Linked DNA regions of Homo sapiens: region 1 is linked to region 2. The links come from fine-mapping of genetic effects on plasma protein levels. Region 2 holds a variant in brackets. A gene starts in the other region. All regions are shown on their forward strands.

Region 1 (5,388 bases), not on the chromosome of region 2:
TTCCCATCAACACTAATAGTTACTGTCGGTTTCACTAACCCTGCCATGTTCCGGGCTGCGAAATTCACTCCTACAAGACAGAGATAGCCTTGGACCTTATTAAGACATTGTTAACAATCACTCTGGAAGTCAATTTTCAAAGAATGCTTACTTTACCTATTTTGAAATTTTGGATAATGTATAGTAACTTATTTTATGTTTTCTGTGATATCAGGGCTGAGCTAGATCCTCCCAGTCATAAGGTATATATGTGACATTTTGAAAAGCTAAATTCACTCTCTGAGACTATTACACTTCCTCTAAAATGTAAATTTGTATGGTGCCTTTCAAGAGATCAAATGCTTGCACTTCACCTTGTGGAGTGTTACGATAACCTTGTGGGTGCGGGAGGAGTTTGACTTAGAGCCTGGCCCTGTGGTTTGGTTGGGAATTTCCCATTGTCAAACTTGACTCCTGCAGTTGGTGGGCAGAAGAGCTGACTCCTTCTCTGTCCTGATATCAAACTCCATTTCACATTTAGATTGTGGAACTGATATGACACATCTTACTGTAGAGAAGCAGTGTTAGACATCTGCATCACAAAGAAGAGTGAGATGGTTAAAACCCAGGCTCTAACTTGGCCACTTGCTAGCTTGGGCATATTATTTACCTCTCCTAACCTTCAGTTTTCTCAATAGTAAAGTGTGGATAACTGTATACTTGACCTCGCAAGTTTTTTTTTTGTTTGTTTGTTTGTTTGTTTTTTGTTTTGAGACAGAGTCTCGCTATGTTGCCCAGGCTGGAGTGCAGTGGCACAATCTCAGCTCACTGCAACCTCTGCCTCCCAAGTTCAAGCGATTCTCCTGCCTCAGCCCCCCGAGTAGCTGGGATTACAGGCACATGCCACCATGCCCAGCTAATTTTTGTATTTTTAGTAGAGATGGGGTTTCACCATGTTGGCCAGGCTGATCTCGAACTCCTGACCTCAGGTGATCCACCTGCCTTGGCCTCCCAAAGTGCTGGGATTGGAGGCCTGAGCCACTGTACCCAGCCAGCGGATGTTTTAAAAGGTTAAATGAAAGGGGTTAGCATGGTACTGGCACATAGAAACTGCTCAGCTGTTATTCTTGCTTGTATTATGCCTAAACCCAGCTCCCAGTCAACACAAGTGCTACTCTGGCCATAAGGCCCAAGTTTTTTATATACCCCCCCAATTTTTATTCAAAACAAGTGAGTCTATAAATCTATGAAGAGACAGAAAAACTTGTTTCTTATGACCCTCTGAGAAAGTGAATATTGACTACATCAGAGGAACAAATATTACATTTATAAGCACATTGACTTATTATGGGGATAAGGCATTGTTATTTCATTGTCTAGAATGAGTAAACATAATTAATAATTGTAAGCATCCATTAAGCATGTTATGTAAGTTAAAAAAAAGTAAAGATAAGAAAGTCCTTGGCTTTGTATACAGTTTACTACAAGGGAGGTTTCTCTTAATTAAATATGAAAAATATGAAATAATTGCTGTTCTTCCATTAGTAAAGAACAGTTTAGCTATTATACACCCAAGTCATTATAATTAATGTGTAACTAAATGACTTGAGTTAGAGATTAAAGGATTGGTAGGGTTTATAATTCTGAGGAATATCCAGTGGTGAGACATTCAATGAGTAAAAATGTTGTGTTTCTTCAGATTTGTAATTCTTCAAAACCATGTTTATAAAATATCTCTCACATTTATGAGAACTCTAAAAATTAACCAACTAGAAATTTTGTTAGTTGATACTGCTGTTTTAAAGCTATAACTTAAACCTTGAAACAAATTTAATTGATCAATTTAATTGTAGGTAGTGATTACTGTCTATAAATTTGAAGCTGGGAAAAATGTTATTAAATGAAATGACCAAGCTAAAATGAAATTCTATCTAGAAGTTAGGTGAAGTATTTTCAAAAAGGATAAATGGGCTTAAATATATGGATCATGACTGGACAGAGGTGTCTGTGGGCCTAGTCTTCCAAAAAGAGACAATTATTACTAGTAATTTAAAAAAGCAAAAGTAGAAGCATACATTGTGTTAGTCTATATACCCTAGGATCACAAAAGGAAGATAATTGTAGGAAAATTCATGGTAAAGTACAAACCCAATCACATCACAAAATGCTTTGCCAATTTCCAAATTTGTAATGGTATTTCTCACCCAGTTCTTTCATGTAATCCTCAAAGTTTTCACTGGAGACCAGCTTCCAGGTTCCCAAGAAGGGCTCAACCATCATGGAACACTTGCTGAGAAGAGCCACTCGTAATTGAAAACCAAAGAAATATAGGCATTACGGTGCTGCCAGTAGTTTAATTTAAAGAGCGTCTTCATCACGTGACTCTTCTGAAATGGCCAATGGGCAACAGCAGCAAGACTAAAGATTCTAGGCACCAGCATTTGACTCATTTTATTTACCTCCAAATTAAGAGACAGAAAATTAGCATGTAAAATTAAATTCTGGTCAATGATTTTAGCTTCTAGCAAAAAGATTTACACCCAAGTCACCTGACAAATATTACTTGTGGAACGGAGACAATCTTCAATAGACATCAGCTTTTTGAACAATGAATACTGAGTCAACCCTGGAGGAATATCCTGACAAATTGATAAACACCTGGCTGAGATGTTTTCCTACCTAAGACAAGAAATCCTTGCTTGGTCCACCTCAGCTGTTTTTTGTTTGGGTAAGTCACAGTGCTCAAACATCCTCTTCATTAAAATAATATCTTCCCTTCCCTTCCTTACAGGGTTGATGGGTTGATATTAGTTAATGTAACTAAAATGCCTATAATTGCTTGGAGGGAAATGGAGGGTATTATTAATATATTATCATTGTTGTTAATCGAAGGTAATTGAGGACAGGAAAGAAAGGTGACAATTATCATTGGATAATAGTATATGATTTAAGCTCTGAAAAGGAAGCAGAGCGAATGCCTACAAAATTCGTCTTTCAGGCTTACAAAGTAAACTCTACATTAAAAGATATTTTAAATTATAAGAAAAAATTTTGGCAAGTTTCATATAGAAAAAGATGTTTGGAATCTGCATTCTAAAAGAAAGACAAAGGCAGCAAATGGTTTCAATCTCTGTGCCATTACTTCTGAAACCATCTTCTGCAACCCCAATAATGGAAGTGGACTTTGCAGGTACTGAGTTTAGTAAGAAGGAGTAGATTCAGTAGCTGTTGATTTACATTACGGTTTTGAACTCCAGTTAACTTTAGAAGATGTTGGAAAGTTAGTGTCAGGGACCAGAAGAAGAATATTTATATTTTTACCTGCTTTGTATGAAGTATTTATTTAATTCAGAAAATATTGTTTGTGAACAAAATAAACAGGAGGTTGATATTTTGGTACTGTAAAACAATAACTTAAGTGGAATAAAGGATGGCTTTTGATGAAAACATATAAAGAAGAAACATATAATGTGATATCTTTATGGGTGGGACAATTATTAAATTATCTACAGTGCAAAACAGGGTAAGTGAAAATCCTGGAGTTAATTTCAGGAAACTAAGACCCAAGCTCAAAATAAGTGCCTCAGCAGTTGAAAGTGCATTCAGAGGTGATGTTCAAATATAGAGCAAGTTGTTAAACGTTTGCTTAACTGGTTCGAGATGTGTATGCACTCTCTGCTTTAAAGAAAGCAAGCATACATTGCTATGCCTGTTGGCCAGCTGGGTAGTGTAGCAAAGGTCTCCCATCAGCATAATCTTCCTTGTTGTTTTGATTCTCCTGTCATAGAATGATATTCCTGTGGTCCGTTTAGAACTCAGTTGGCCCATGAGACAAAAGCTAACATCAGATTTCTGGTTTCAATTATCCTCAGCAAACTAACGCAGGAAGAGAAAAACACCTCATGTTCTCACTTATAAGTGGGAGCTGAACAGTAAGAACACATGGACACAAGGAGGAGAACAATGCACACTGGAGCCTGTTGGGGCCAGGGCTATGGGGGGAGGGAGAGCATCAGGATAAATAGCTAATGCATGTGGGGCTTAATACCTACGTGATGGGTTGATAGGTGCAGCAAACCACCATGGCACACATTTACTTATATAACAAACCTGTACGTTCTGCACATGTATCCCAGAACTTAAAATAAAATAAAATAAAAATTCTGGCTTCTGTAAAATTCCCCACCCCTAGGAGAGAACCAAAGGGAGAGACAGTCTCTCTTTTGCCTCTACACATTTTTCTATCTCACGTGATATTTACAAGTGCTGCATCCATTGTGTTACCTCCTCAAAGATGGGGCCAGAACTGAGGATAGCAGAGCAGAAACGTGGAAGGAACTGAAGGCCACTTTATTTCAAAAATTTATATTATGTTAGTTAATAAATTCCATTCTTATTTAAACAGTTTTGTCTCTGAGCTTTTGTTACTTGTAGAAGAAGTCTTCATAATTACTACGCCTTTGTAAATAGCTTCACCAAATGGTGAATTTGGACCTTCACAACAACCAGTTGCATGAATCACATAGAGCTGGCCTCATGACAGCAGAGACCCATCTTCCTGAACCAACTCAAACATCTCTTTCCCTGTGACACTGGTTCAGAGCTAGATAATCCCCATGGCGTGAAGATAGAAATAAATGTTTAAGAGAAGTATATTAGCTTATTTCATAGTACTGCAAAGAGCTATTTCCCAGCTGTCTCCTGAGCTATTCTATGAGTATATCAAAAAAAGAAAATATTTTCCACTCACTTCTGTATCCTTAAGACAGTATCTGGCATATCATAAGTGTTCAATAAATGTTTTATGGATGAGTGACCAAAGAAATAAGTAGTATTTTTTTTAACTGGTAATTCTCATTAGTGTTCTTTATCTCTCTAACAGTGACTAAAGACAGAGTTTTAGTACATTATCTTCTCCTGACCTGGTCCTATGACAGGCCTTTTATTCTGGTCATTATCAGATGGTGGAGGGATGCTCAGACTCTCTTCATCTTTCTCAGTTATATAGCACAAGTCTCCCTTCTCAACTAAGAAAGTTCTCTGCTATTTCTGTTGCTACCACCGCTAGCCTTTGGCACTTTGGTTTGATTATATAAAAAAAGTGAACACCATTTCCTCAAGTAGAAAAAAAATTTTTAATCAGATTGTTCCTAATGTTAATCCTAGTAAAGGAACTAGAATACTGTAGTTTGTTATAGAATAGTTACATGTCTTGTTCTTATGACAGTTTCAAGGCTCATTTCTCCAATATGTCATTTTTCTATGAACTTTCAGCATCTCATTTTCTATATTGATTTTCTTGTGACATTTTAAGACATCAAGTAGTTTTGAATAATTTTTAATTTTGAGATGCTATGGTTGCCACTGATGATGGATACTGGTAAAGTTAAACATATACTGGAAGCTACA
Region 2 (5,388 bases):
TATGTAGTAGACTTATACCGTACTGTTTTCCTCTCTTCTCTCTCTTTCTTTCTTTCGGTAATGGAACCCTTATTTCTTGTGGAAAACATTCTACATGATCTAGTTGGGAGTGAAGCTGAATCTTCTTCTAAGCCACAGGGTGGGCACATGAGACAGTAAGAATATCTGATCCAGAGCTCTTAGGGAAGACACTCCCTGTAATCCGATGTCAAAATTTGGTTGTCAGCCATCACCCAGCAACATAAAAAGAGTCATTGAATAGAAAGATATAATATCCTAATGGAATTATGTGACACCTTGGATCCCAGACATACTAAAGAAATGTATCCCTGGACTTTCAGTGATATGCCCTCAAAGGCTGTCAAATATTTTTGTTTAAAAAAAGTTATGCTGTTTTAAGTAGGAAGTTAATCACTTGCAACTGAAAAGTTTCCAACGATTACTGCTATTTCTGTGTTACCTTTCAGAAGCTGAAGGGTAGACTCTATACCCTGCTTCCATAAGAATGGGATCCATTTTGATTGTTTCTTCTTTTCAATGGAAAAAAAGCAAGTATGCATTCAGGTATTATTTTTTACCCAGTCCAGTTAGAGTTATAGTTTGGAATATTAGTTGACTAGAAAAGAATAAAAAATATCAGGAAATAGATTTTAGGCTGGGGCAGTAGCTCACGCCTGTAATTCCAGCACTTTGGGAGGCCGAGGTGGGTGGATAACCTAAGGTCAGGAGTTCAAGACCAGCTTTACCAACGTGGTGAAACCTCATCTCCACTAAAAATACAAAAAATCAGCCAGGTGTGGCGGCAGACACCTGTAATCCCAGCTACTCGGGAGGCTGAGGCAGGGGAATCGCTTGAACCCAGGAGGTAGAGGTTGCAGTGAGCCGAGATAGCACCATTGCACTTTACCTAGGGAACAAGAAAAAAAAAAAAAGAAAGAGACTTTAATGGAGAAAATCCTTAACAAATTAATATCAATTTTACGTTTACTATAGTCAAAGATTGAAGATATCTTTAAAAGGTGTGCTGTAGAATGACAATTTACAAATTCATTCAGCAGGAGATCATGTAGACATGAATTACCTGCTCTGCACTGTGATCATAAAACATTATCAAAGTTAGTTTTTAGATCAAGTGGAAAAGTTTTCTGATATTTCATTCAAAAGTACACTGGAGTTTATCTCTGTGCCCAAAAATATTCTTGAAGATGAAATACAGGGAATTACAAATAAATTTTGAACTGAGAAAGTGGAATGAGAAATAAAAGAGTAATTCTCTAATTTCCACTCTATCCCCAGGCCTATGCCCCTCCCCTTCACAATAAGTAATCCTAATTCCAGCTGTATGTGTTGGACAAGGAAGGGACAGGCGGGTGGGGCTGGTGACTAAAAGCTTTTTAGAGTATCTTGTAAGATTGTCTCTTGGAATAGTTAGAAACTTCCCTCTGCCAGAGGATTTAGTATCTGCCCCCACACTATGAAACATTTTGCTCTCCACCCATTCATCTTCTAAAAATCGTTGGCCTTAACACAATCTCTATTGTTAAGATATGGAGACATAGATTGCTGTAAATACCTCCCCAAAACACAGTGAGATTATGGCAGAGAGGAAATTGAGACCTCTTTTTCCCTAAGATACTACTTCCTCTACAAGACTTGGTTTGCTCTTGCTTTCCACACTTTGTTGTTTCTCAAACTTCCTTGTGTGCTCAGATATCCAGAGGACATGGGAAAATATAATTAACTGGGAAGACTGAAGTTTGGCTATAATTATCAATTTGGGCAATCCATTGTGGCAAGAGCCATGCAGGGTATACAAGGTCTTATACAAAACAGTCTTTTAAACCTATATTAAGTTCCACCGTTTCCACAGACTTTCCTCAGTTCTCCAAGTTTTTAACAATCTCTTCATTTCCCAGAACTACTAGAGAGGTTGATTACAAATGGTCTTATGATAGTCAATGTTTTATTGTGTATAGGATTTTCCAATATAAATACAGTATTCTCAGAGGAAAGTACATGACTTCCTTCTACATAATTTATTTTTCCATGATACTTCATATCGTTCTGGTTAAGTATATTTGTGTGGAAGAACTGGTCAGTTGTCTTGTATATGTCAGTTAATGGTGATTTCTCAATTTAATACTCATAGTTTCTTTTGCATGTTTTTATTAAGCTTTGCAAAATAGCACAAACAAATGTACTATTTACAGTTTCAGACCAAAGTATACTCTCCTGAGTATTCACATACCTAATAAACCTAATTAGTAATATAAAGAAAACCAGTATTTAACTAAATAACTTTTGTAGCACAATCATTCCACTTAGATAAATAGTTATTTGCTAAATTACTCAGGTAACAACCTGGTTCTGAGTTTCTTCTAGAGAGGAAAGAGGGTTACGGGGTCAAGATAGAGAAAGGAGGTGAGAAGTTTATATAGGAATTACTTTAAAAGTAAAAGTAAATTAAATTCTCTGAAAAAAGGAAAAGAAAAGCAAAAGGAAGGATAAGATAAAAGGGAAATTACTGATGTGTGCAAAAATATGCATATATTATTTTCCGGTGTGTCCGTGTGCAAACACATGAGAGAAATACAAGGAAATCTGTTTCTTTTTATGGTTGACTCTTCTATGTGTAGTGGGATTTTCTGGTTACATCTGAGCTAAATATTATGGCACATAGCAGAACACAGTAGTTATTGCACATGATTGTCTGTGAA[G/C]TGGGTGGGCAGGAATTTTTCATTTCATAAATCATTTCAGCTTGCTGCTCTAATTCCACAGCACTGGGAGACTAAAAAAAGCTCAAGAGGGAAAAAATGTGTTTTTCCTCTTTTTATTCTTAGTCTACCCCTTCCCAGTGTGAATAGATCTTTAGTGTTAATGATTAGGTTTTTTTATAAGACATTTCAAAATATCTTTATTGCTCTGCTTTTGAAGCAAATTATTATGTTTTCCCATTCTATTTTCTTTTTTGCCGGGGAAATTTAGTACCAAGGCAATCAGACATACAGTTTCCTTCCTTTATTTCTGCTTATTTATAGCACAGTCTATATCAATGAAATAATGCTATATTATTTTCTTGCTGATTGCTTAATGTTCACAGTTCAAAATTCCAGCCAAGGTCCTGAAGTGGTTTTACCCTTATTTAAGATTTCCTGCTGAAAACATTCTATTACAGCTTTGCAAGTAAGTACCTCCCTGGCCTCAAGTCACTATAAAGGTAATTTAGTAATTAAAATAAACACCCTTTGCAAATCTGTTTCCTCCCTTCTGGGAGACTAGGGAAGTAGTTTCCATCATATTTCAGGTTTCTCCCCATTTTCCTTAAATGATCAGCCTTCAACCAAGAAGTTACTTGGTAAGTTGTCTGTAATGTAGCTCCAGGGCAAACACAAAGTGTACATTGTGGGAAAATAAAGCAAAACAACAACAACAAAACACAAATAAAAAATGTTTCTCAACAGCTAGAGTCCATGAGCATAGTTTTATAATTTGCTTCCTGCTCCGGTAGGAAATTTAAATCGGTTCTTGAAACTATGTAGTTATTATGATTAATCAAAATCTATAGCTGTGGTGCTCTGTCTGAAGCCAGGAACTCCTGTGCCCCACTCCCTACAACAGTTAAAAAAAAAATTTTTTTTTCCTAGCAGAATAGAGCAGCGTTTAAAAGCAAAATTAAGAAAAAGGAAAAGGTAGTATATGCTAATACTGTCTTCTCACCTAGCATTTTTAGAGGTCCCTCACATTTATTATTTATCTCATCTTTAGAATTGGCTAACAGAAAGTAGCATGCAGATATCAAATGAAAAGAATACACCCTTTACACTTAAACAAAACCTTTTAATTTGCCATGCTAGTACAAAAATGGAGAGAATTGCAGTTACATTCTGTTAACTTGGAAACAGGATCTTCTTTTAAGTCAAATTTTGTTGGTTTTTAGTCAATAGGTTTCTGATTTGATTTTCATAAAAATTTTGAGTATTGTTTTCTCTTAATTTCTTCCGAAATTGTGCAAACCAAATTACATAGTTAGCCACTGTCATTTAAGTTAAAAACAATTCTATGAAAACAAATTTATTACTACTATATGGTTGGGTTTTGTGTAAATCTTCCTATACTTCTTGATTTTTAAAAATAGATGTGAAAATTAAAGCAATACAAGAGGTAGTCCTAGTCCAGATAAAAGAGATACAGAAATACTGATTCAAGCAGAGAGTTATATTTCTGAAATACTTCATTTTCCCCAGTGTAGATAGTCTGTGTAATAATGGGCTTGCATTATTAAGGGTGAAAAGTATTGATTTAATAATTATAACTCAAGAGAAAACTAAAAAATCAGGTGAACATAGTGCTGTGTTCATTTGCACTGCAATCAATTCTCCAAATATTCATTTGATAAATTACACAATAAAAGTGAATGAATAGTCCCAGGTTAGGTTAGGCCCAGTCAAAATTGTCTGAACATAAACAATAGAAAGTATCTTTCAGTCTCTCTGGTGATAAGTCTGTGACATAGGATACCAGATCTTCCAGTTGCTTAGTAGAAGCGAGAGTCAGAAAGATATGGAGACCCTCTATGGATTGTCTCTTGTGCCTAGCTAACTGCCTTCTACTCCCACAACTGATTGTCTTGTGGTTTTATTACATATATCAACATATCTCCCCTTTATCTATTCTGGTTTGATATGGATCTGTTACTTCCGAGAAAAGGGTTCTAATAAAACACCTATTAATGTATATTTTAGTGGACCACGTAAACAGAAATATATATTATTAATATATATTATTCTTATGGCACATGTTAATTCTAAATTAAGGTTCTGGGTACCCCTGGTATATGGTCTCACTAATAGGAAACAAGTAACAGGAACTATGAGTTGTGAGAGGAAAATAAATATTTTTTTCACATATAATAAAACTTTTGGAGAGCATATTTTTATATTCTTCTTTTCTTTCCATAGAACTTTTTTCCTCTTTCGTAACTACAAATTTTTCCAATCCCTTTCACACCAAGGCAAGCATAAGCACTCTAGTTACTGTGATCTAAAGACTGCTTTTTTACAAAAGTGCTGAGAAAGCAGAATAGACCAGCGTTTAAAAAGCAAAATTAAGAAAGAAGGAAAAGGTAGAAAATAAGTGATGAGAGAAGGTAGGTAGTAGACATATTTCCTGTGAATGATTTTTTCTTCAGAATTGCTGCAAGGTAGATTCAGTCTTATGCTGCTCATTTGAGGTTTCCTTTGCTACCTTTCCCAGTTCTGGCCAATTTGTATGTGTATATATTTGCCTAAGTGTATCAGGGTATATCCAGTGGAGTTAGTGAGAAGGGTGAAATGATGTCCTAAAAAACTGAGCTACCACTGTACCATTGTAAAAGCCAACAAAAATGCT

Which allele goes with the higher level. Alleles are on the strand shown, and positions count from the first base shown. The strength of an association depends on the size of the effect and on how common the allele is.
For the plasma level of the protein whose gene starts at base 2,312 in region 1, C is the high allele of the variant in region 2 and G is the other (weak association).

What was found. PIP is the chance, under the fine-mapping model, that this variant and not a neighbour inherited with it causes the effect. The UK Biobank Pharma Proteomics Project read protein levels with antibody pairs (Olink). The fine-mapping took linkage between variants from a reference panel, not from the people measured, so its PIPs are less certain.
Region 1: FABP9 starts here. The variant in region 2 is fine-mapped to the plasma level of the FABP9 protein (UK Biobank, PIP above 0.99).

What each region holds. Positions count from the first base shown.
Region 1 is chr8:81,459,268-81,464,655 of GRCh38, forward strand. It overlaps FABP9 (fatty acid binding protein 9), which reads right to left and starts at 2,312. Exons shown (of 4, transcript NM_001080526.2): 1 at 2,184-2,312; 2 at 1-70. The coding sequence starts at 2,256. It overlaps LOC101927118 (a long non-coding RNA gene), which reads left to right and starts at 2,191. Exons shown (of 9, transcript XR_001745980.2): 1 at 2,191-2,707.
Region 2 is chr10:52,572,176-52,577,563 of GRCh38, forward strand. The region is part of intron 1 of LOC124902426 (a long non-coding RNA gene); the gene reads left to right. All of the region lies in intron 1 of LOC105378305 (a long non-coding RNA gene), which reads right to left. Among named protein-coding and RNA genes, the nearest start is that of LNCAROD, 100 kb to the left of the region's middle. The variant G/C (reference allele first, on the strand shown) is at 2,718.